Linked DNA regions of Homo sapiens: region 1 is linked to region 2. Evidence: fine-mapped expression QTL. A gene starts in region 2. The other region holds a variant in brackets. All regions are shown on one strand. Distances are between the middles of the regions.

Evidence for each region.
Region 1: its variant is fine-mapped to the expression of CBLN3 in minor salivary gland (GTEx, PIP 0.97).

What each region holds. Positions count from the first base shown.
Region 1 is chr14:24,787,360-24,799,937 of GRCh38, forward strand. No RefSeq gene overlaps it. Among named protein-coding and RNA genes, the nearest start is that of GZMB, 160 kb to the left of the region's middle. The variant AG/A (reference allele first, on the strand shown) is at 6,421.
Region 2 is chr14:24,424,425-24,437,002 of GRCh38, forward strand. It overlaps CBLN3 (cerebellin 3 precursor), which reads right to left and starts at 5,244. Exons shown (of 3, transcript NM_001039771.3): 1 at 4,331-5,244; 2 at 3,862-3,981; 3 at 2,121-3,562. The coding sequence starts at 4,630. The coding sequence ends at 3,365. It overlaps KHNYN (KH and NYN domain containing), which reads left to right and starts at 5,530. Exons shown (of 8, transcript NM_015299.3): 1 at 5,530-5,695; 2 at 6,290-6,507; 3 at 7,039-8,186; 4 at 8,298-8,428; 5 at 8,512-8,608; 6 at 11,648-11,755; 7 at 11,964-12,065. The coding sequence starts at 6,307. RefSeq lists a silencer at 5,367-5,906 and enhancers at 5,937-6,116, 6,261-6,824, 6,677-6,786, 6,825-7,386, 7,387-7,948.

The sequences.
Region 1 (12,578 bases), 360 kb after region 2:
TCTCTGTCTCAGAATCTGTTTCCCATGAAATCCCATCCATGACAAACACTGAACCATTGGCATGACAACCACATGCATCACTGCTTATTTCTTCAGTGCTTTCCTCTGTATAGAAAACAGATAGAGCTACCACTTGTGATAAAAGCCAGTTTATTATAATCAGAAGCTGATTTATTGCCCAGATTCCCCTCAGGAATGAAGGATTGATTTCTCCAGCACCTGCTGCTGGAAAATAGCCCTTAGCTATCAGCCTTCTTTGGAAGGAAATGGCAAACCCTAAGTCACACCTCTTTTCAGGGGCAGCCCTCATTTAGTGACTGACCAACAAGGTGGTATAATGGCCAGGCTCCCTCACTCCTGCTTGGAAAAACTCTGAATGGGCCACCTCAGCTCTAACCTCTCTCGGGATTGGTTGAGGACTTTGGACTGTATTACAGCTCAATTACTCCTTCACTCCAATCCTGTGTCCTTTCCCTCCCAAGAGCATTTCTTAATAAATCTCTATGTGCTAATACCCTTTTTAGAATCTGTTTCTTAATGAAACCAACCTGCAATGTCCTTCTCTCCCGAGATAATTCTTACTCATCCTTTAAGAACTCAGCTCAGAGGTCCCCACCTCTGGAACCTCCCCCAGCCATGTCGCATTCCCAATCTCCTCTTCCATTCTCAGTTAGTTTTCCTTTGATGGTGTTTCCATAACATCCTGTATATGCTTCCATCACCTCTGTCATAGCAATTCTCACTCTCTTTTAATAGTCATCTACATATGTGGCTTTCTCCTGCACTGAACTGTATGCTTTTTGTGTTGCCCAACTGATCATCCCAGGGACAGAAGAAAGAGCACCAAAGTGTGCTTCAGAAATCTGAATTTTGGTCTGAGCTCTTCTAGTAGTTTTCTATATGTCCTTGCCTCTTCATGTGTCAATTTGCATAACAGTAAAATGGAAATGGTAATCTCCATCTTTTTTTCTTTACTCAGTGAGTTTAAAATCTATCATTATAGCTGTGGTTTGGGAAACCCCAGGCAGTACTCCCTCAGAGATGCTTAAATATACTCTCCACTTAACCATGTCCACCTATTCAGTCTTCCACAGGGTGAACGTAAGAGCTAGCTGCCTGCAAGGAGACCAGTGCAGAATAGGAGTTTTGGTTCTCAGGCCGGGAATATACTAATGTGAACATAGCCCCAGGAATTTCTGGGGCAGCCTCAATTTAATTTTTTAATCAAGATAATTATTTAACCATATTTAAATATAATTAACATTTATGCATTTATAGCACTTTGCATATGAGCAACTTCCTAAGCCATGAAAAGAAATCCTTTATTAGGGCATGTGACCCAGTTCAGGTTTGGGAAATCATTATTCTATATAAATTCTAAATCAAAGTAGTAAATTGGCATTGTGATTTATATAAATGCCTCTTATGAGTTTGATTAGCTGAATCAATTCCCCAGATTCCTGGTCATACCTATGAAATGAAATTTAGTTGCCAAAATTTGAAATCTGAGGCTCTGACTTCTTGGAGTGCTCAGCAGTGTAAAGCCACTTCCTAAGGCCCAGCTTAAAATAATAATATGTAGGGACAATTTATCGAGCTCCTAGGATGGGTAGGCTTTGTTCTGGCCACTTTGCAGTTATTGCTTTAATCTTAAAAATGACCCTACAGGGTACCTTGTCCCTTTTGTACAGATGAAGAAGCTGGGGATCACAGCCAGGGATGTGCTACAGCCTGCTTACATGGGTTATGAGAGCCAATAGTACCAGTCTCTTCCCAACTTTGCATTCTGCGACATCACATTGGTAGCTTGAAATCAGCTATGGTGGGAGTATTTGCATCACAGAAATTGGCACATGTTACAAATGAGGGCTTTATTTATATATTTTGGGATCTTTGTGTTTAGCCATTTACCAGAATAACACAGCTTACAGCTAATAACCAGGCCAAGACTCAAACTAAGGTCTGTCAGTCTCCAAATTCTTGCCTGTCCTCCTGTGTTGGAAGAAGCTAGAGGCTGAGTTTCAGAGCCCGGTACTTTCTTAAGACTCTGCAGCTCTCTGCCCAGAGTCCCCACTCCCTGCCCCACCTTCCCCAACTAAATTCTGCTAACTCAAAATAGGAAGCAAAGTTCAGCCAAGGGCCATCCCCTTTATTCAGTTTCAACTCTTGCCAAAAAAAAGTCAAAAGATGAAGCTGTTAGAGAAAAACCAAAAAAAGACAAAGACAACTTGGCTTCTGTTTGTTCAGTATCCGTGAATAAATGCAAAGGAGGAACTGAATAAACCATTAGTTCCCAAATGCTTTCAGGAGCCCCACTGGAGAGCTCTTTTACTTGGCAGTGAGGAGAAGGACCCCATGGAAGCCTTAATTGGCACCATCTAATTACAGGAGATGGAGTAAATCTGTGGTCCAAGTGTCCATCTGCTTCTCATTTCCAATCAGTTAGCACGCATTAAAAGTGAATACAACATAAACTCAGGACAACCTCAGTGATGCATTACATTTCCAAGACAAGAGTAAGGCGAGAAATGAACTTCAAGGAAAATAACAGCAGAATGGGCCAAGTGCCCTACTAAAATCTGGCATGGACTAGAGTCAGACATTGAGAAAATGGCCTTTAACAAATAATTTAGTTTTTAATGACCCTGGACTCCCCACTGGCTATGATGACATTATCAATCCTCAGGCAATGTTTAATAGCCTTGCATATTCATTTTGCACATATTTTATAGTCCTTTTCTTTCTATATTTGTTTCATTTTTGGTTTTTAATTGTTAATCCTTTGGGGACAGAGATAATATCTATGAAGCCTATATGGAATGGCTGTATTTACCCAATGCCTGTACTCCTGTTTTATCTAGAAAGTAAATAACATGCTTTTGATTTTACAGGCTCATAGGTAGAAAAGACTTGCCCTATCTCAGATGATACTTTGGACTTTGGACTTTTGAGTTAATGCTGAAATGAGTTAAGACTTTGGGGGACTGTTGGCAAGGCTTGATTGGTTTTGAAGTGTGAGCGCATGAGATTTGGGAAGAGTCAGGGGCAGAATAATACGGTTTGGCTCTGTGTCCCCACCCAAATCTCATCTTGAATTGTACTCCCATAATTCCCACTTTTGTAGGAGGGACCTGGTGGGAAGTAATTGAATCAGGGGGGTGGTTTCTCCCCTACTATTCTCGTGGCAGTGAATATGTCTCATAAGATCTGATAGTTTGAGAAGGGAAAACCTATTTTGCTTGGTTCTCATTCTCTCTCTTGCCACTGCCATGTAAGAAGTGCCTTTCACCTTCCGCCATGATTGTGAAGCCTCCCTAGCCATGTGGAACTGTAAGTCCATTAAACCTCTTTTTCTTCCCAGTCTCAGGTATGTCTTTATCAGCAACGTGTAAATGAACTAATACAACTAATATCAAAAAATTAAAAGATAAGAAGTGTTGGCAAGGAAGTGGAGAAAAAAAGAACACTTACACACTGCTGCTGGGAATATGAATTAGTGTAGCCACTATGGAAAACAGTGTGGCGGTTCCTCAAAAAGTTAAAACTAGAACTACCATATGATCCAGCAATTCCACTACTGGGTATATATTCAAAGGAAATTAAATTAGTATGTCAAACATATATTTGCACTTTTATGTTTATTCTAGCATTATTCACAATAGCCAAGATATGGAATCAACCTAAATGTCCATCAGTGGATTAATGGATAAAGAAAATGTAGTATATATACAAAATGAAATATTATTCAGTCATAGATAAAATCCTGTTATTTGTGGCAACATGGATAAACCTGGAGAATATTATGTTAAGTGAAATAAGCCCAGCACAGAGAGACAAATACCACATGATCTCACTCATATATGGAGGCTACAAAGTTGTTCTCATAGAAGTAGAGAGCAGAATCATGGTTACCAGAGGATGGGGAGGGTAGGGGGAAAAGGGGGATTGTTTCAGATTGGTCAATGGGTACAAAGCTACAGTTAGATAAGAAGAATACGTTTGGGTGCTCTATTGTATAGTAGGATGATTAGAGTTAATAATAATACATTGTATATTTCAAAATTGCTAGAAGAGAGGTTTTTGAATGTCCTCTTCACAAGGCAACGATAAATGTTTAAAGTGATGGATATACTTATTACCCTGACTTGATAATTACACAATTTATACATGTATTGAAACATCATGTTGTACCCCATTAGTATGTGCGATGATTTTGTATCAATCATAAATTTAAAAAATGAAAAAAAAATTGAAGGGATTGCACTAAAGCACCAGAAGGTCTAACCTTCTATAGTTCTAAGAAAAACTGCAGGAGAGAGCCAGGATGTGGGAGCTGTCCTTCCCAGTGGGTCTCAGGGACACATTTTTGATGGTGGTGGTGGGAAACAGAACCACTACTTATGTCAAGAGACTTTAAGCCAATTAAAACTAAGCTCCTTTTAAAATTTTTTCGAGTACTAAGGAGATTTTTAGGTGGTCTAGCTCTCTTGGAATACAAACTACAAACTATTTTCTTTGGCTGCTCTTTACCTCTTATAAGTCAATGAGAGGATTAATGGTAAAAGGCTTTATTTCTGATCTTTGGAGGACAAGGGAAAGCTAAACAGGAGAACTAGATCAATATAGCATTGTTTCTTCTCAAAAGGACTTAGAATCATTGGGCATTAAATATGGGAGCCCTCAGCATCACCTGGGCCAAGTTTCATAGTTTATAGTCAGAAGTACTAAGGGTCACTCAAACCACTAGTTAGAGGGAGCATAGGGTTTAGAATCCAGCTGCTTTTTTGCAGGATTCTAAACTCTTCTGTGTAGAAAGAGGAGTACATTCTTGGGTCTGTGAAAACTAAAATTTGAAATACCACTTCTGCTTTTAGGGTAAACAACTTTGGGAGTATCTGCCTTGCTCAAGAATTAATTCTTCTCCCCTTTTCCCACAGAGTTGCAGTATGGCACTGTGGTGAGAAGTGGGACAACCATCTTAGCCAACCTGATGATGAGCTCCCCTGGGGATTGGGAATCAGGACTAAGTAATTCCAGCTTAGCCGGGGCTTCTCTCTAACCCTACAGCTATGCTAGGGCTATCTTCCATCAGCTGTGTGGGCTAACTGATCCAGAAGGATGGTCTTCAGGAGAATAAGAGATGGGAGATGGAAAGGGAGCACTCTGTGGCTTCAGGGACTTTCCATAACCTGGGCCAGTCCAGCTGTCCTGCCCAGTTCTGGGCCTGACCCACTGGGCAGGACAGCTCCCACCATCTTGGCTCTGCTACCTTCCATCTCTAGAGTCTATGACACACCTGCATGTTAATATGTAGCACCCTCCTACTCTCCAGCCCCTTAAGCTAGTTTGAATTGAATTGTTGCTGTTACATGAAACTAACAATTTTAACTAACATGGTTCCTTCTTATCTTAGAAGAGTCATCTTCAGGACTTGAACACATTTATTTCCACTTACTTTAATGGATGCTCTATCATATTCTTTTCAACTCTTTGAGAAGGCGTTCTTCTCTCCCATCCAATCAGTTGCTAAGTCAGGACAGTTTTCTTTCATAGAGACTCTCAAATCTATCATTCTTATCCATATCTAATGCCATTAAATTTTGGACCTTATTTCTTCATGTTGGTCATTTGCAATAATCTCCCAATTGGTTGGCTTGACTCTCATCTCTCATTTTTCATCCATTATCCCTTCAAATCTAATCCTAAAGCTTGCCTTGATCATGCCCTGCCTAAGTACTAAACTGTCTTTAGAATTCTGCCTGCCACAAGCAGGGCTATGTACGGGATTACTCACCTAAGCAACGTGGAAGAGATCAGAGGTACAAATTCAGGCATGTGTAGTGTGATGGACTGATGCACGGTCTGTGACTTGAGTTCAAGGCAGCAGCAGGGCCAAAGCTGAAGACAACAAGGAGACTTCTGCTGTGTATGTTTATGGGGTGGGAAAAGCAGTGTGAGAAAGGAGAGTAGTGAGTGGGGACCATGCCACAGGGGAAGGTGGTGGTGAGTGGTTTGTTACTGTACCAGCCTTAGGAACAAAGGGCCAGATGTGTCTAGAAAGAATATTTCCTTTCTTGGAGCAGCCAGAGCTCCCAGTCACTTTCCCACCCCAAATACTCAGGAGCTTCCCCTTTCGCTTCAGTGTGGCATTTAAAGCCTTACTTTTACAGACTCACACTTACATTCCAGGCTTATTATTATTATTATTATTTTACAAATCCTTCTGATGCATCTTCTGCTAAAGTTTTAGTAGAACTGGTATTTAGTGAAATCGGTACTATAGTGAAAAGATTGACGCCAGCCAATTGTTTCCAAAGAAGTGTCAGGGATGGTGCTGTCACCTTGGTGAGTGTTCAGTGATCTGGGGTCTGTCTGCAGTCTTCAGGCTTGGAAATTTGATTTTGTCAGCAGGTCAAATGC[AG/A]GGCCCCTTCCTGGGGTAGTGCTCTAATGGATGCTAATATTTTCTGTCTGTGTTTTCTTTGCTGAATGGTCTGATCTTTGTCTTCTCCACTTGCTGATCTCTGTTTACTGTGGGCTTTCCAGCCTCTTAACTTTGGCTCAGAAAGTACTCCTTCCTGAGCCCTCAGCAGTTCTATACTTTTCCAATAGTTGAAGCAGAACCAGCTACATAATTTGTGGAATTCAGTGCAAAATGACGGGCTCTTGTTTAAACACGTTTAATTATTTCAAGATGGTGACTGCAGAGTATGAAAGGGAACATGGGGTCCTGGGTCACTGCACTGGTTAATGCTCATAAAGCCAGCCCTCCTTTGTAAGATCTCTCCATTTCTCCCCATTCTCACTCCTTTTCACATCCACATAGTGAATTCTCAAAAATTGATTTTGAATGACAACGAAGGATATCAGATATACTGAAATGATACGGAGCTCTTAAAGGCTCTCTAAATCCATACACATTGCATTAAGAGAAAGCCTTTGGATTAATGCACGTTATAAAAATGATAACAGGAGTGTATGGCACTTTAAGTAGAAAACGACAATGGAATATTGGAAGAGTCATCCAGTCTTTGAAATAAATACCGATGGGCCAGAATCATGGAAGTAGTGAATACTAGGGAAGATGAGGGACCCCTTTTTGGATGTGCAAGAAGGAAAGAGGACAGAGTGAAAATATTAGACAAAAACAAAAACAAACCCTCCACCTAGCAAACATTAAGGCTTTTAGACTTTGGAGATCTGCTTTTTCTAAGGGTGCCAATGGTATTCCTGAAAGCACTTTGTGGGAGGGGGTGGGCACATTGGGGCTTGGGGGGAAGCGCAGGACAGGGGTGGGATAGGGGAATGGTCTCTCAAAAAACAACAATCTAATGAGCTTCAGTAATTAGCAAGGCTGCATTCTGCCTTCCCATCCTGGCCTGACAGGACAGTGAGAGTTATGAAACGGCTGCCAGCAGATGAATGGGGTTGCCTCCGCCATCTGTCTTCCAAATGATCCTGTAGGTACAGCTATTATTTCAGTCAGACACTGGCAGGTGGGCAATTGTTCACAGGCTCTGTGAAGAATAGCTGTTGCCAAGGGTTTGGTGAGTGTTACAACTTCCCACAGACCCGTTTTCGGCTTGTCTGAGACATTAAAACATGGAGGCGGCACAGGGTCTGTGACTGACCAGGATTCCTTCGTGGTCTTTTCCCCTCATGTATGCCACTCCGTGCTTCTTCCCACTCTTCCCTCCTCCCTCCAACCCCCCACCCCTCTCCTTCACGCTGTACCCTTTCTCACTCCTCCTCGTGCCCCTCACCTCAGGCTTCCCTCCTCATCAGTTGTTCCTCTTTTCTCTTTTTTCTTCTTCCTCTCACAAAACTACACAAATATCTTATGAGAAAAGTGAGGAGGAAGGGAAAGGAAAGGGAGTGTTGAGGTAGGTTGTGCAAAGCAAAGGGAAACTAGACTAAAATCACCTGCAGGCTCAACTAGAGGGCGGCCCGGGAGTCACCAGTGGTATCATCCCAGGGAAGGAGAGATATAAGGAGGAATTAAAAAAGGAAAAAGAAAAGAGATGCCCAAAAAAGACACCCAGCATTAAATGTTGTATTAATCCTGGTTAATAAGTTGGTCAGAAGATAAGAAAAAACAGCTGGAAGAGGGAGTCTCGTTTAAATCTCCCAAAGGTAGGTGTGAACTTGAGCATATTAAATAGCTTTCAATAATTCGATGTGCTCATTTTGTCAGCATTTTAATTCTCATCCCTTTATGGACCAATTTGAGTGACATAACTCAGCCCACACCTGGTTTGACGTGACAGATAGATTCGAAGCACCACACATTGTTCTCACCTTTACACTGCTAAGAAACTTACTAGAACAGATTCAGAGTTGAGTGAGTTGTGCTCCACTCTAACCTTCCACCCAGGGCATGACATGTCTTTGAAAGGACAGCACTTTGAGAATCAAGTTCAGGGGTAGAATCAACGATTGCTCTTCAAGCCTGGTAAATATGACAAGATATCTAGCACTGTCTTTTCTTTTCTCTTCAAGCCTGCTTATATTCTTATATTCTTTCTCTTAAACTCTTCCTCTTCTTTTCTTCTCCAACCCTCTACCCACTACCACCATCCTGCTCATAAGAATGGCTTAGAAACCAAACCAAACAAAACCAATCTGAAGCAAACCAAAGGCCTTCTCCCCAGCTGCTTTAGTTGTAGGAGGTGTTGTGTATTAAAACCGCTGTATCTCATTAGATAATGTAATTTAAATTTCCTCATGTCAACTTGCCAGTAAGAGAATCTAAATACTGTATGCCAATGCTATGGTTTAAATGTGTTCCCCAAAATTCATGTGTTGAAAACAACTCCAAAGGCAGCAGTGTTGGGAGGTGGGGCCTAATGGCAGAGCCCTCATGAATGGATTAATGCTGTTAGCCGGGGAGTGGATATTTTACAGTGGGAGTGGTTTTGTAATAAAAGTGAATTTGGCTCCCTCTTCCTCTCTCGCCTTCTCTTCTTTTTTCTCCCCTCCATTCACTTGTCCTCCCTTCTCGTCCCTTCTCTTCTCCTCTCCTCACCTCCCCTCACCACCTCCTTCCCCGCTCATGTTTTCTTGCCTTTCCACTCTTCTGCAATAGAATGATGCAGCCAGATGTGGCGCCTCAGTCTTAGACTTCCCAGCCTCCAGAAACATGAGCCAAATTAATTTCTGTTCATTGTAAATTACTCAGTCTCAGCTATTCTCTTATGGCAACAAAAAACAGACTAAGACAGTCAAGTATTATTGAAATGTCTGTTTTACTTACAATCTACTGAAAGTGTTTTGTACTGCGATTTCAGTGGCACAAAAACTTGGGGATCATTTTTGATACTGGATTGAAATTCAAACTCAAAGCTCTTCCTAACAGTGCATGGTGAATCTAGTGGCTTCCTGTCTAACACCCTATCAGAGTGACCATGTTGTTTACCATGAAGCCAGGCACTTTTGAGAATGAAAGGAATCACTATTCATGATTGCACCAAGACAATTGATATAAACCTGAACTGTCCTATACAAACATGATGCACAGTCCCATGCCTATTGTGGAAAGGCTAAATATGAGGAGCAGCATTTTCTTGCAGTCAAGCATGGGTCCATTCTCTGAATGCCTAAAGTCCTAGCTGAAGTTGTCACTCATTTGGAATTTAGCATAGTTTGCCTTAAAATTTTATTTTTCTTTATATGAATATATCCTTGAGATTGAGGTCTGAATTCACATTTCCATTTCCAGGACAGATCCATAAATCCTCAGTACATGTTTGTTGATCATGACCAAGGTTGCCCTAAGAGGAAGTATTGGTTCTCCCTGGTTTTGAGGGGATACCACTACCCCGCAGATTATGAGCAAGTTCTCCTGAATGCTTACACACTTTGCCTTGAGGGTAAAGGAATGTATTGCTTTCCTATTGCTTTTGTAACAGGTTAGTACAAACTTAGTGGATTAAACCAACAATTTATTATCTGATAGTTCTGGACATCAGACGTACTAAAACTAAGGTGTCAGTAAGGCCCTGTTCCTCTGGAAGCTCTAGGGAAGAATCTATTTTCTTGCCTTTTCTACCTCCAAGAGGGCATTTACATTCCTTGACTTGTGGCCCCTTCCTCTCATCTTCAAGGCATCTTTCTCTGCTTTCATCATCACATCAACTTTTTCTGACTCTAACCCTCCTATTTCCCTCGTATAAGGATCTTTGTGATTAGATTGGGCCCACCTAGATAATCCAGGTCTTTGTGATTACATTGGATCCACCTAGATAATCTTCTTCTTAAGGTCTGTTACCTTGAAGACGTCTGCAAAGTCTCTTTTGCCATGTAAGGTAACATATTCACAGGTTCCAGGGATTAGGATGTGGACACTTTTGGGGGCACATTAATCAGCTTACCACAAGGACCCTCTCAAACCAGACTTTTAGTTTATCTTAGTACTCCATTATCTGAAGGTCACAGCCATTGACAGTGTTTCTCATGGTTCTGTTTCCAGTCCAGGTGAACAAAAAAAATTGCTTGTACTAAACTGAAAGTGGTCTTAGTGTCTTTCTAAGGTAGCCAGGGGAGTGAAGGTCTCTGGTGCATGAATAGGTTATCAAAAGTACCATCAAGTCAGTTAAAGAAGAAAACATAAATTATTCCCAAGTGACTTAGACCTTCACCTGCTGTGGCTGCGTACTTCCTCTCAAGGTCTCTTCTGGCTCTTGGTTTGCACACCTTGGGGCAATTACATGCATGATCTACATACATACTTCTCCTGAGAAGAGTCTAGGAGGAAACCTTCAGCATACAATTGAGATATCTGGAATGTAAGAGTTCATTGCTGGTACCCTTTCCCAGGTCCAAGTCTTCTTCTAAAGGACCAGGTGTGCTCCTCCCATTCTCTACCGCGGGTTCTCCCCAGCTGCACCCCACCTGACAGTAAGGAGGCACTAGCTGTGCTGCTGGCATCTGCAAAAAAAAAAAAAAAAAAGAAGAAAGAAAAAAAATCTGCCATACTTCTATCAGCCACTGCCACACAAAGTTTCATTGGTCAAAACGGTTGGTGTCATTTCTGTCTTAGGCTCTCACTCACACCATGTAATGGCCTTCTGTTCCAGGGAGGTTACGCTTTCACCTTCTTTCTTCTTCATGACCAGTTAAGGGTTTATAGTATTCTTTGCAAGATATGCATTGGCATAAGTCATAGATGCCTATATTTTCAATCATCTTTTAAATTTATTTTATTCCGAAAATGAAGACTTCAGCTTTCTCATAGCCAAACATACATATAACCACCATGATCAAGTTAACATGCATTGAATGCCTGCAGTGTGCAAACCACCATGTTAATGCTCTATATGTACTGTCCCATTGAATCCTTACAACAGCCCTATGAAATAAGTATTACTTTCTAATGTTATGAATGAGGAAACTAATGTTTGGAGAAATGTCTTGTCTAACATGTGCATGCACAGACACACACACACACACTTCTCAGTAGAGTTTAGGCTCAAGAGAAAAAATATCAAAATTAATATATAAATAGAAGCAGTAAAATTATGTTAAAGAGAAAAATATTTAAAGTTGATCTTTTCTTGGGTTGGGGGTATCTTAGTTCACTTAGTATTGTTGTAACAGAACACTTGAGGCTGGGTAATTTATAAAGAAAAGAGTTTTATTTGGTGTATGATTGTGCAGGCTGGAAGGTTCGAGATTGGGCAGCTGCATGTGGTGAGGGCCTCAGGCTGTTTCTGCTAGTGGTGGAAAGTGAAAGGGGAGTGGGCATGTGCAAAATGATTGCATGGTGACAGAGGAAGAGAGAGAGAAAAACAGAGGAAGCCAGACTCTTTAACAAGCCACTCTCACAGGAACTAATCCACTTGAGAGCAAAAGCTCACTCACCCCTGCAGGAGGACGTTAATCTATTCATAAGGAATCCACCCCCGTGATCCAAGCACCTCCCTCTAGGCCTCATCTCCCAACACCACCATGTTGAGGATCAAATTTCAACATAAGTTTTGGCAGGAACAAGCTGCATCCAACCCAACAAAGCAGGACGGAAGAACTGATAAACCGTGATGGTAGCAGGTTGCCATCCATGCATTCATTGAATCAATGAACACCTATTTATCGGTCTACTAATGTAGACCTTAGATACACAGACATAATTGAGATTTAGTCTTAGTTCTCTACGAGCCACCTGTTTAGTAAGAAGACAGATCTCATCTGTGATATACAGCAGAATGTTCTAGAGTGCCAAGAAAGGCAATGAGCATGAACAGGAAGAAGTAAGTGATTACTTCAGCCTGGCAGAAAATCAGGGAGAATTTTGTGGGAAGAAGATGTACTGAGTGGAGCCCTGCAAGATAGGTAGAATTTGAATGAGTCTGTCGGGGAAAGCGCCCCAGGCCCAGCAGCTAGTGTGAGTCAAGACACCGAGGTAGGAAAAGTGGTGGCCTCTCAGAGCAGATTTGTTTTTATTTATTTATTTATTGAGACACGGTCTCATTCTGTCACCCAGGCTGGAGTGCAGTGGTGCCATCTCAGCTCACTGCAACCTCCACCTCCTGGGTTCAAGTGATCTTCCTACCTCAGCCTCTCGAGTAGCTGGGACCACAGACGCA
Region 2 (12,578 bases):
CATCTTTGAGTTTAGTGACTCTGATATGCAGATGTCCTGAAGATGTCCATGCCTTAATCCCTGGAACCTGTGAATATGTTATGTTACATGGCAAAACGAACTTCAAATATGCAATTCAGGTTGTGGACCTTAAAATAGGGAGATTATCCTGGCTTATCTGGGTGGGCCTAATCACACGAGTCCCTAAACTCAGAGAACTTTCTACACTGAAGTCAGAGAGATGTGGTAGAAAGGTAGGCCTGAGAGATTTAAAGTGTGAGAAGGACTTGGCTTGCAGTTGTTGGCTTGAGAATGGAGGGGGCTAGGACCTAAGTCCTACAACCGTAAGGAACTGAACTTTAAATGAGTTTAGAAGTGGATTCTTCCCCTCCAGTAAGGAAGGCTGCCCTGCTTATACTTTGCTTTTGATCTTGTGAAACCCTGAGCAGAGAAGCCAGTCACGTTTTGTTGGACTTCTGACCCACAGAAACTGTGAGGTAATAAACAGTTGTTTTAAGCCACCAAGTTGGTAGTACTTTGTGGCCAGATGTGGTAGCTCACACCTGTAATCAGATCACGTGAGGCCAGGAGTTTGATACCAGCCTGGACAACATGGCGAAACCCCATCTTTACTAAAAATACAAAAAATTAGCTGGGTGTGGTGGCTCGCACCTGTAATCCCAGCTACTCGGGAGGCTGAGGCATGAGCATTGCTTGAACCCAGGAGGTGGAGGTTGCAGTGAGCTGAAATTGCACCACTGCACTCCGGCCTGGTCGACAGAGCATGACTCTGCCTCAAAAAACAACAATAAAAAACAACTTCTAGTTGTCTTCCCCAATAGCTAATTTCCCCTTCTTCCTTGTTATAAAACTCCCAACTTCTGGCTGGACATGGCTGCCTGGAATAAACACTGTAGCTCCTAGCCAAGCTCCCTGGCTTGGTGAGCCCGGGTGACTAAATTCTACTGAGACACAATCAGAAATATTGGTGCATATTTCAGAAAGCTTCTTTCAAGGAAAGAGATGTGTTGTTTCTTCCTTCCTCCTTCCTGTTAGGCTGATGTAATGTCTGGAGCTCAGGGAGCCGTCTTGGGTCATGAGGTGGCAAGCTAAGGATGGTAGAACAAGACAGAAGACTGGGCTTTCAAATGATCATAAGGCTGCCATCCATCCCTGGACTCTTATTTACAGATTTTTCTATGTGAGACAAAAATGATTTCCTATTTTGTTTAAGCTATTCTTATTTTGGGTTTTACTGTTACAGCCAAACCTACTCTTAATCATTTTGCCTAATTAATATCTCATTATAATTAGTGGGGTAATACAGAGGATCCATTTTCTAGGAGATGAACGATCAAGCCTGAGCAGTGAACAGTTGTCTTTTGGACATCTGACTAATCCATTGTCTTATAACACGCCATTGGACTGTTTTTCTTCTTAGTTGCAAAATATACTCAAATAGTTCCACCAGTATCTTTCATTCTTGGCACAGTGCCAGATCTTCTTGGAATTATTCACAGTTCTCTGTACTCACCCCTCCCTACTTACATAGATAAAGAAAAACAAATGTACCTTGCAAATAGACAAAATGCCTACTATATTTATGTTCTTGTACTTATCACGACTCACTAAAAATAGCCTATATTCACTCTTCTTCACTCAGCATATTAACTACTTTTTGTCACACTTTATAGTGACTTCTTCCTTTTTGAATATCATTGCAGGTACATGGATTTAAAAAATTCACCTTGTTCCAATTAACTGTATTATTTTCCTTTTGATAATCAAATTGTCAAAGCATGTCAAGTGGGAGCTTCTTTAAATTGATTCCTTTGCCTTTTCAGCTTTACTTTATACATTTAAAAAGTATCTTTGCTTTCTGTCATCAACAACATGTTCTGGGCCTGGAGTTACTTAAGGTGTGCAGCTATTCTCCAAGGAACCTGAGGGTTTTTGGTATTTTTTTTTAATGGTGACTAATATCTGAAGCAAAGATCCAGTTTCTAAGAATGGATATCAGATTGTTCCTGATGTTGTTTTTAGGATTAGTGACAGTTCAAAAAGTTATTTCTTTTCAAAACCACAAATTCACCTTGGTATTTCCTATTTAACTCAAACATTATTCAACTTTTAAAATGTAATTTTAGTATACAGTTTGATATTTATTTTCCTCTGCAACATACCTACTTGTACCTGTAACACCCGATCCAAACTCCAGAGGCATCTTCTCCTTAGTAATTCTATAGTGTCTCACTGACCACCATTCTCTAGTTGTTTTATTGATAGATTCATCCAGGCTGGGCCAATGGGACAGCGGGATAAGAAAGAGAGAGGGAGGGTTTAGCATACTGGCAGGAGAGGGTCTGAAGGAATGAATCATGGAATCCCAGGTAATAGGAAGCCTAAGGAGGAGAATAAGACAGCACAGATCAGGAGAAAGAGAGATAGTGGGGATATGCTGGAACAGGTACAGTGAAGATAACTCAGTGAGAGAGCTGGGAGGAAGGAGGCAGCAGTCAGAGTGTGGAGGGACTAAAGTTCAAACTTCAAAGGTGGAGCAGTTTCAGGAGGTGGCCAAGCAAGAGGATGCATGGTTATCGATGTTTTCCATGGTCCACTTCCAGCTCTGTATACCTGCTCTCAGCTCTGCTCTCAGCCAGAGCAAACACACTCACCCTAATCTCAGGTGGGGAGGTAAGGGCCAGAGTCCATCTGGGATCCAGCATAGAAGGACAGCCAGGATTGCTACCTGCTGGCTGCTCTGCTATACATGCAGAATGTGTACCATGTTCAGTCTAGACAATACACCCTCCTTCCTTCCTCACCAGCCACAGACTCCAGGCCCTTCCCACCCTTCTGCCTGTGGCTGAGCCTCCCACCCTAGCCCATACGGTGCTGGTTCAGCTTCTGACGGTGCTGGCTGAGATCCGTGATGCTGGCTTTCCTCACAGGAAGAAGCCTGCAGGGTACGCTGAGGCTTGTCCATCTGGGCTCCTGTGGGGGCCTGTCAGGCTCACCTGCGCCACCTGTCCCTGATCAGCATTGAGCAGGAAGCTGGGGTGGGGGAACCGGAGGAGCAGAGGCCGCAAAGTAGTGCAGATCTTCCTTCTTGCCAAACCTTGCCCTGATCCTAGGGCTGCAGGCAGGAACAGATGCAGCAGGTGGCTGGGAGGGTAACTGGGGGTGGGTGGGTGGAAAGGCCTGGTCTGGAGATGCCACAGCTCTACTCTTCTCTTAAACTTGGGTGTTTGGCACAGGGTCCCATGCAAAGAGGTGGGATAGGAGCCAGAGGGAGTCTCTCTCCTGCCTCTGCTGTTTCTGGGGCAAGAGAGGGCAGAAGAAAGTTGTCAGGGGCTGGATTCTTGTGCTTGAAAGACTTGGGTCCTCAGAGAGGGAAGATGAGGAAGCCAGAGAAACTTGAGTATTTCCAACCACCCAGTAGATTCCCCCGACGCAGGCGCAGAGACACTCGGTCCCCAGGGTCCAAGGGCAGTAGCACAGAGCTGGTGGCTGCCTCCCGGGTCACGTCAGGATCATTGGCAAAGGCTGAGATGACAGGCCACGTGTTCAGCATCAGGCTCACCTGGGGAGGGGAGCCCAGTTAGCCCCCATTCCCCAGCCCTTAGCTCAGGACCCCCCACTTTCCCAGGAGCTTCCTCTTGGGAAGCTGGGTTTTAATGGGCTCTCCCGGGAGGGCTGAGGGGCGGCCAGCATTGGACTCTGCACATCCTCCACACTCAATGCAAGGCAGGCCCATTCCTCCCCTGGTCCTGGCCTCCAGGACACAGGTCAATGGAGAGTCCACCCGGAGGTCAGCTGGGCTCCCCTTCTTCCCCCTCCCCACCCTCCTGAGCCGGGGATGGGGGCCAGTGCTGAGGTCACCTGGACAGTTTGGCGGTTGTACACCTTCACCACATGGAACCGGAAGCTGTAGACACCCCGGACAGGGGCTACGAAGGAGCCAGAGGCCCGGTCAAAGCCACCGCCCTCGTTCACCAGGACCTGGGGGAAGCAGAGCCTGCTGAGTGGGGCTCAGGAAATGCCCATGGCTCAGGGGTACCATGGGGACTAGGGGCAGGGGCAGTGAGTAATGAATAGAAGGAGTGGCAAGTAGGAGTGAATAGGAGTGAACAGATTCAAAAGAAATGGTGAGAAGGGGCAAGGAGAGGGCTGCGTATGGGTGGAGGGAGGGGAAACCGTCGGTGGGGTGGTGGGGCAATAGGCCAGATTAGTGAAAGATGTAGGAAGCTGTTTTCTTAAAGCCTCAGAGACAGCAAAGTGGGCTTGGACAGTTGCTTCCAGGTCCTTGCAGGGTCTTTCCAGGTCCCCTGGACAGGGGTAGGGGGATTACCTGGTCGAAGTAGATGGCCCCACTGGTGCCATTGCCGGTTTCCCCTGCTGGCTCATGGTGGTGGCTTCGGACCGCAGCAAATGCCACTCGCCCAGGGGGTGCCTCTCCCAGGGCTGCTCCCCCGGGCCCCCCTGCAGCAGCTCGGCCAGGCTCACAGACCACCAGGCACTCCCCCTCCAGCAGGACGGGCTCTGACCCCTCCTGGGCCCACCCGGCCCCCAGGGCCAGAAGCACCAGAACCAAGGGCAGCCCGGGACTGTGTAGGGGACCTGGTAGCCAGTGTGGCTTGGCTCCCAACATGGCTGAGGGGCTCTGCAACCCACAAGTGCCCCGGTCTTCTGCCCCTCTTCTGTTTCCGCTCCTCTCCCTGGATTCTCACCGCCGGCACCCTGATCGTCTGCCCTCTCTAGGCTCGCTGAACCCCCTCTCCATACCTGTGTCCCAGCTCTGTCCTGCCTCCCACTCTTACTCCTGCTGTCACTGCAGTTCCCTCCTCCTTGGCAGAGCATGCAGTGACAGCAGTTGGGCTTTGGGAGAGAAAGGAGGGATGAAGCCGCCTGCCCACTGGACGGGAGGGCTGCAGCCAGAGCTTCAGGGCAGCCCTGCTGGATGGGACAGCACTGAGGGCTGGACCTGGGGGGATGGAGAACATGGTATGTGTGTGTGACGGGTGTGACAGAATGTGTGAGTGTGTGCATATGCCAGAGGCAGCCCCTCAACCCCTTCCTCCTACTCTTCCTCTCTTCAAAATCCCCCACAAATCAACAGCCCTTCTTCGTGGCATCTTTCCGTTTGTTGGAAGAAAGGGGTACTCCACCACGGGTACCCTCCGCCTCCCGCCTCCCGCCTACCCCCTCCGCCACGATTGCTTTGGTGGAAAGTGCTTGGGCCTAGAGCACCAGTGGGCCAGTCACGCTGCCTCTTTGGTCGGCCACATCTTTATTCGCGGGAAACAACTTTCAACGCATGGTTCCCCTTTCCGAGAAGTAACTGCGCAGAATGCGCGAGGACCCTGAGGGCCGGGAGACAGACGGGAGGGCTGGTGAGAAGCGCAAGGGGCGAGCCCTGGAGCCGCCGAGGGGACTAGGCCGAGCGGGCCCGTCGGGGCCTCTGGGCGCGGCGGCGGGGTTGGGAGGAGGGCGCGCAGCCGGGAGGAGCTGGGCTGACTCCGCCCCAGGCCAGGAAGTGACTCAAGAAACAGTTTGCGTGCGATGTGGACAAGAGAGGTCCCCGCTGGGTGAGGAACCCGGGAAGGCCCGCCCAGATTCGGGCCCCCTGCCCTTGTCCCCTGGGCTGGGGGCGCGGGCAAAGCGGGGGCCTGGCGGGCGCTGAGAGGACCTGAAGCCGGCGCGGGCGGCGGAGGCGGTAGGCGCGCCCCTCCACCGCGCCCGGGAGCGGGGAGCGGGGGCCGCGGTGCGGAGTAGGCCCGGCCCGGGGTGGCTGCCCCAGTCCGCGGTGGGCGGGCCCGGCCCGGCCCGGCCCCTGGGCCCTGGGCGGTGCTCCTGGCCCGACGGAGAGGGGCAGCGGACGGCTGGGGGAGGGGTGGGAGTGGCTTGAACCTTGGAAATGGCAGACCAGGGCCCCCAGAGGACAGCCTAGTTCAATCCCCTGCTGAGGATTCGTCCTTAAGAAGCTTCAGAGTGCCCCAGGAGACTCCTTCTGGCCTCCAGGCCGAGCTGGAGCCCCCCCACCCTTCTTGCTCCGGACTGTGGTCATCCTTTTCCAAAGCCCAGACGCCCACTCTCGATAGACAGCCTTGTTTACCGGGACTTCCTCTCCGGAGAGGCCTGCGTGACATACACCCTCCCTACCTCCAGTGGACTCAGATGCTTGTCACCTCCTGGGGCTGTTTACCAGAGCCTTAACTAGGTGCGACCTGTTGATAGCTGGTGTAGTCCCAGGAACCAGGATTTGGATGGAGGGTACAATGAGGCTCTGAGCTGCCTTCTCCCCTTCCAGGGCTGGGGGCAGCAGCCATGCCTACCTGGGGGGCCCGCCCCGCGTCCCCAGATCGCTTTGCGGTGTCTGCGGAGGCTGAGAACAAGGTTCGGGAACAGCAGCCCCATGTGGAGCGCATCTTCAGCGTGGGGGTGAGCGTCCTTCCGAAGGACTGTCCGGACAACCCCCACATCTGGCTGCAGCTGGAGGGCCCCAAGGAAAACGCCAGCAGAGCCAAGGTGAACGCCTTCTCTCCCCCATCCCTCCAGGCACCAAGGACGCTTTCCCCCAGGGCGGAGGAGAGCAGGGCCGAGGAGAGCAGGGAAGAGGAGGGGCCTGGGGAGGATCTCCACTTCTTGGTTGTCTCACTGGCAACCTCAGTGCCCCTGAGTTTTGAGGGACTTTCCAACTCTATATTTGTTTTCAGTTTCAGCTTAATTTCTTCTGTGATGGCCCAGGCTGGCAAAAATCATTCTGTGCTCTTTGGGAGAATAGAGATATCTGGCTGAACAAGTTGGCCCCACCAAGGAATGCACTGTGGGGTGGGAGGCTGGGCCACATTGCTTCCTTTGGGATTAGGCTGGGGTTCCAGGATGGCTCAATCATGTACCAGCTTTGTGATGGGAGTCTCAGTTTCCTTATCTCTAAAATGGGAATAACATCATGTGGATACTCCAGACATCCTGGAGCTCAGGAGCGAGCAAGGAGCCAGGAGGGGTGATCTGGGCCAGTTAGTTTACTTTTCCTGACCTTCCCTTCCTCCCAACCAGGAGTACCTGAAGGGCCTCTGCAGCCCAGAACTGCAGGATGAAATCCACTACCCGCCCAAACTGCACTGCATCTTTCTGGGAGCCCAGGGCTTCTTCCTTGACTGCCTGGCCTGGAGCACGTCAGCCCATCTGGTGCCCAGGGCGCCAGGCTCACTGATGATCAGTGGCCTGACTGAAGCCTTTGTCATGGCTCAGAGCCGGGTAGAAGAGCTGGCAGAGCGGCTGAGCTGGGACTTCACGCCAGGACCATCTTCCGGAGCCTCTCAGTGTACTGGAGTGCTGAGAGACTTCTCTGCCCTGCTGCAGTCCCCGGGGGATGCCCATAGAGAGGCTCTGTTGCAGTTGCCCCTGGCTGTCCAGGAGGAGCTGCTGAGTCTGGTGCAGGAGGCGTCTAGTGGGCAGGGGCCAGGAGCACTGGCTTCTTGGGAGGGGCGGAGCTCAGCCTTGCTGGGTGCTCAGTGCCAAGGAGTGAGAGCTCCCCCTAGTGACGGCAGGGAGTCCCTGGACACTGGATCTATGGGACCCGGAGATTGCAGGGGAGCAAGGGGAGACACTTACGCTGTGGAGAAGGAGGGAGGGAAACAGGGTGGTCCCAGGGAGATGGATTGGGGGTGGAAGGAGTTGCCTGGGGAAGAGGCGTGGGAGAGAGAAGTGGCCCTCAGGCCACAGTCAGTGGGTGGAGGGGCAAGGGAGTCAGCACCCCTGAAAGGGAAGGCCCTGGGGAAGGAGGAGATAGCTCTGGGAGGAGGAGGGTTCTGTGTCCACCGTGAGCCTCCCGGTGCCCATGGCTCCTGTCACAGGGCAGCTCAGTCCCGAGGAGCCTCCCTCCTCCAGCGGCTCCACAATGGGAATGCCTCTCCTCCGAGGGTGCCCAGCCCTCCACCTGCACCGGAACCCCCATGGCACTGTGGAGACCGGGGTGACTGCGGAGACCGGGGAGACGTGGGGGACAGGGGAGACAAGCAGCAGGGCATGGCACGGGGTCGGGGGCCTCAATGGAAACGAGGCGCCCGAGGGGGCAACTTGGTGACTGGCACACAGCGTTTCAAGGAGGCCCTGCAGGATCCTTTCACCCTGTGCCTTGCCAATGTGCCTGGCCAGCCAGACCTCCGCCATATTGTCATTGACGGCAGCAACGTGGCCATGGTGTGAGTACCTGGTGGGGCTAAGGGCCTAGGAGAGGGAGGATATGTCCTGAGGGGCTGGCATTGTAGCCAGGGTGCCAAGCCCCTCCTCTGGCCGACCCCCTCCCACTACAGGCATGGCCTCCAGCACTACTTCTCCAGCCGGGGCATTGCCATTGCTGTGCAGTACTTCTGGGACCGTGGTCACCGTGACATAACTGTCTTTGTGCCTCAGTGGCGCTTCAGTAAGGATGCCAAAGTCAGAGGTGAGTTGGGCCTGGTCTTCAGTGTCCCAGGATAGGCTCTGTTTCCACTTTGAGGAGAACCCTATTATGTTCTTTTTCAATAGAGAGTCACTTCCTGCAAAAGCTGTATTCCCTCAGCCTGCTCTCCCTCACACCCTCACGAGTCATGGATGGCAAGAGGATCTCCTCCTATGATGACAGGTACTTGCTCCTCTCCTGGCCCCAGGCTTGATATTGAAGGAGCCCTATGGAAGACTGAGGGAGAGAGAAAAGCTCCTGGTGGTTTACGCTGTTTCTAAGCCTTGGTGGTGGGTAAGGGGCCAGTTATTCCTCTGTGTGCCTTATGATTGGGTAGGTAAACCTGCCCTGCAGGTGTGATGAGATGAACTGTAGACAACCATGTTTGTCTATTCATCATTCATCAAACAAAATGATACCTTGTATTTATATAGTGCCTTACTGTCTAGAAAATACTGGTTTAGTGGAAAGGTGGGAAAGCTGGTTACATAAGTAGCTGACAGATGTCTTCTTATAACCTGAATTTCCAAACATGCAGAGAAATTTCCCTAACATTCTGGAAAAACCAGAGTAAAGGTCAAAATAACAAGTAAAATGGAGAAACACAACGCATGAATAATAGGACTGTACAAAACATGGTATAATAGAAAGATCACTGGATTTAGAATTGGAAGATCTGAATTTGAGCCTCAAGTAGCACTACTCATTGACTTTGACTGTGGAACTTTTCTTAGTGAATTAACCTCTTTGTCTCAGGGTCCTCCTCCATTCATTTACCCTCCTTGTGAATATACGAAAAAGATAAGGTATGTGCTTGCCTTGCTCAAGGTGCTAGGCAAGAGTACAGTGACATTCCATCCTAACTTTGCACAGACCTACTCAAGTGTGGCAGCGGGTATATCTCCAATCTACAGTCGTGGAGACAGAGGGTCAGAGTGGTTACCTGTCTTAGCAAAGGGGAATTAGACCTCAAAGCTGCCAGATGGTTTGAATGAAAATACAAGGCACACTTCTACCATAGTCTGCCTAGGTGGTGTGAGAAATGAGCAGATTTTAGAAAGCCAAGTTAAAAAATTTACAAGTTCTTTATTCTCTAGGACATTATACAGTTTTTAAAAATTAGTTTTTCCAAACCATAGTGATTATATACTTTGTCTTTTCAAACACTTACCTTCTATTCCTTAACAAGCAAATGGTATTCTACAAAAAAGCAGTTTACGTTCTCCCAATGTTATTCTATTTATATCTAGATGTCACAGATTACCCAAGATATGGAATCTTCTTTCCACACCTGCATTGAAACAGAATTGAAACTGAAGATTGAGTTCGTTTTAATGAATGTTAAAGGCATGTGTCTGCCCAGTTGTGTGGGACCTGGTTGGCAGATAACATAATATAAATTGGGAATTCGCCCAGTAACAGTGAATAAGCACAGTGGTACACAGCGTAGGCATACGGAATGAATGTTGCTGAACAACATACTGTGTAATGCGATCATAGTAAAATATGCTTAACTGGAAAATACCATTTGCATACCATAAGTGTACCATATAATTTTTTTTTGGTTTGTTTTTGAGACGGAGCCTTGCTCTGTCGCCACGCTGGAGTGCAGTGGCACGATCTCGGCTCACTGCAACCTCTGCCTCCCAGGTTCAAGTGATTCCCTTACCTCAGCCTCCCGAGTAGCTGGGACTTCAGGTGCATGCCACCGTGCCCAGCTAACTTTTTGCATTTTAGTAGAGATGGGGTTTCACCATGTTGGCCAGGGTGGTCTTGATTTCCTGACCTCATGATCCGCCCACCTCAGCCTCCCAAAGTGCTGGGATTACAGGCGTGAGCCACCAAGCCCGGCCATAGACATTTGTATGTCATTCCCTTAATTTGTTTCCCAGACAGAAGCTCAGAGCCTGATATCTGTCACACCTAATCCTGACTCCCAGTTCCCCCTATACCACACTATCTTTCAAATACTGACTGCTCACTTAGTACTAGGTGCATGGCCTGCAGGAGGAGGTGGGAACACTGGGAACAAGATCTGATTCTTGACTAGAGAGCCGAAAGAAACCATAAATCAAACACTACAGGAACTCAGAGGGAAAGGAGCCCCATTCTGGCTGGGGTTTTGTGGGAAAGGAGAGATTTGTGAGTTTTTGTGTTGAGAAGACTGGGATGGGTTGGATCTCTGTTTCTAAATCTGTTAAAAAGACCACCACCCATCACTTCATGAGTCCTACCCTGTCTTGTGGAATCAGAATTACTGAATGGAGCCCAGGCATTTTTTAAAAAAGTTCCCTTGGTAATTCTGTTCCTTAGCAAGTCTTGGGAAGTGCCTTCCAGATAGAGGAAATAGTTGGAGAAATATGGAAGTCAGCATAAGACATATGTGGAGAGCAGAGTGTAATCTGATTATTGATTTTAGCTGGAGTTGAGAGTGGGTTAGGGAATATTGGGAGAGATAAGGCTGTAAGGGTGATTTGAGCTGGCCTGTAGAAGGCCTTAGCTGCCAGGCCTGGGTGTGTGGACTTTATTTGGTAAATAAAGGGCAAGTGTGGAAGAGTTTTGTGTAGGTGATAAGCATGCTTTCTTGGGGCAGGGCAGGGGAGACTGGAGGGTGGGTGAGTGGTCAGAGGCGGGGACCCCCTTGTTAGGAGGTTATGCATAATCTCAGTTGCAATATCTGAATTACTGGGGTGGTAATGGTGGGCCTGGGAAGGAAGGGAGCAGAGCACAAGGCTTTTCAAAGGAAAGGCATGTTGGATTTGCAAGGGATTGGTTGGGCAGGGTGGAAGACAGAGCTAGATCTTACTGTTTACTAACGAGGCACAAAGTGTTGGGTGAAGGACTATGGTTGGCAGATAGGATGCTACTGGGAGACCACCTTGGATTCATCTTTGTTTCCTCTCTAGGCCATGGCACTTGCATCTAGTCAGTTGCCTGTAGCTGGGTCAAGGTGAGGTAGGGGGCCAGATCTCCATCACCAGAAGTGGCCTATGGGAGACAGTAAAACTTCTGGGGTTGGGGCCTTGGAGAGTCCCAAATGGTTGCTGTGGTTTTTACTTTTATTTTTGTAGATTTGGGGGATACCAATACAGTTTTGCTACATAGATATATTGCATAGTGGTGAAGTCTAGGCTTTTAATGTAACCATGATCCAAACAGTGAACATTGTACCCAGTAGGTAATTTTTCAACCCTCTCTCGGTTGCTGTGGTTTTGGAGACAGGTTCATGGTGAAGCTGGCTGAAGAGACAGATGGGATAATTGTCTCCAATGACCAGTTCCGGGACCTGGCGGAGGAGTCTGAGAAGTGGATGGCAATCATCAGAGAACGGTGAGGGAGCCCTCCCGCTGAGAACTGGGCACAGATGCAGATGTTTTTCTAAAGCCAGCTCTGCTCTGGCCATGGGGTGAAAACTCTGGGAAGGAGGTGAAGTTTTCTTGAAGGATGGAGCCAGCAGCTTCTGGTGATACTGGTCTCGGTTGTCTGGGAGGTGGGCAAGGGCCCCCTCTGTGACCACACATTATCTTTCGCCATCCAGCCTGCTGCCCTTTACCTTTGTGGGAAACCTCTTCATGGTACCTGATGACCCACTGGGGCGAAACGGCCCCACCCTGGATGAATTTCTGAAGAAGCCAGCCAGGTAATCAATCCCCTAGACTACTTACAGGCAGCCCCCACCCCTGGCCCTCTCTCAGCAGGCCCAGAGACTTGGGTGGAAGTGTGACCTCAGTTTGGGCCAGCTTAATTTTGCAGTGGTTTGAGTTGCATTGGCCTTGGCCTTTATAAGCTTCCCAGGGGATCCTGACATAGAACCTCCTTGCTGGGAGGGAAACACCTGCTTCCTGTTTCTCTTAATCAGCATGTTTGATGGAGTTATTTGGAAAATGGTTGCTTATACTGACAGCCAGTTGTATTCAGCATGCCTTCTGCTGACCATTACATAAGTGATTCATTTAGGACTAGAACTAGATCATAATAGTGGCAGAGTTCACCCTGTTTCTAAAAGAACGGCCCATCTTCCCTTCAGAAGTGGGTTGATACTGCCACTCAGTGGTCAGCTTCAGGAACTTCAGGATTTCTCCCCCAAAGCCAGGAATAGGCAGGACAATTACGAGAGGGGTGCCCACTAAGATCTAATTTCCCCCCCAGGATG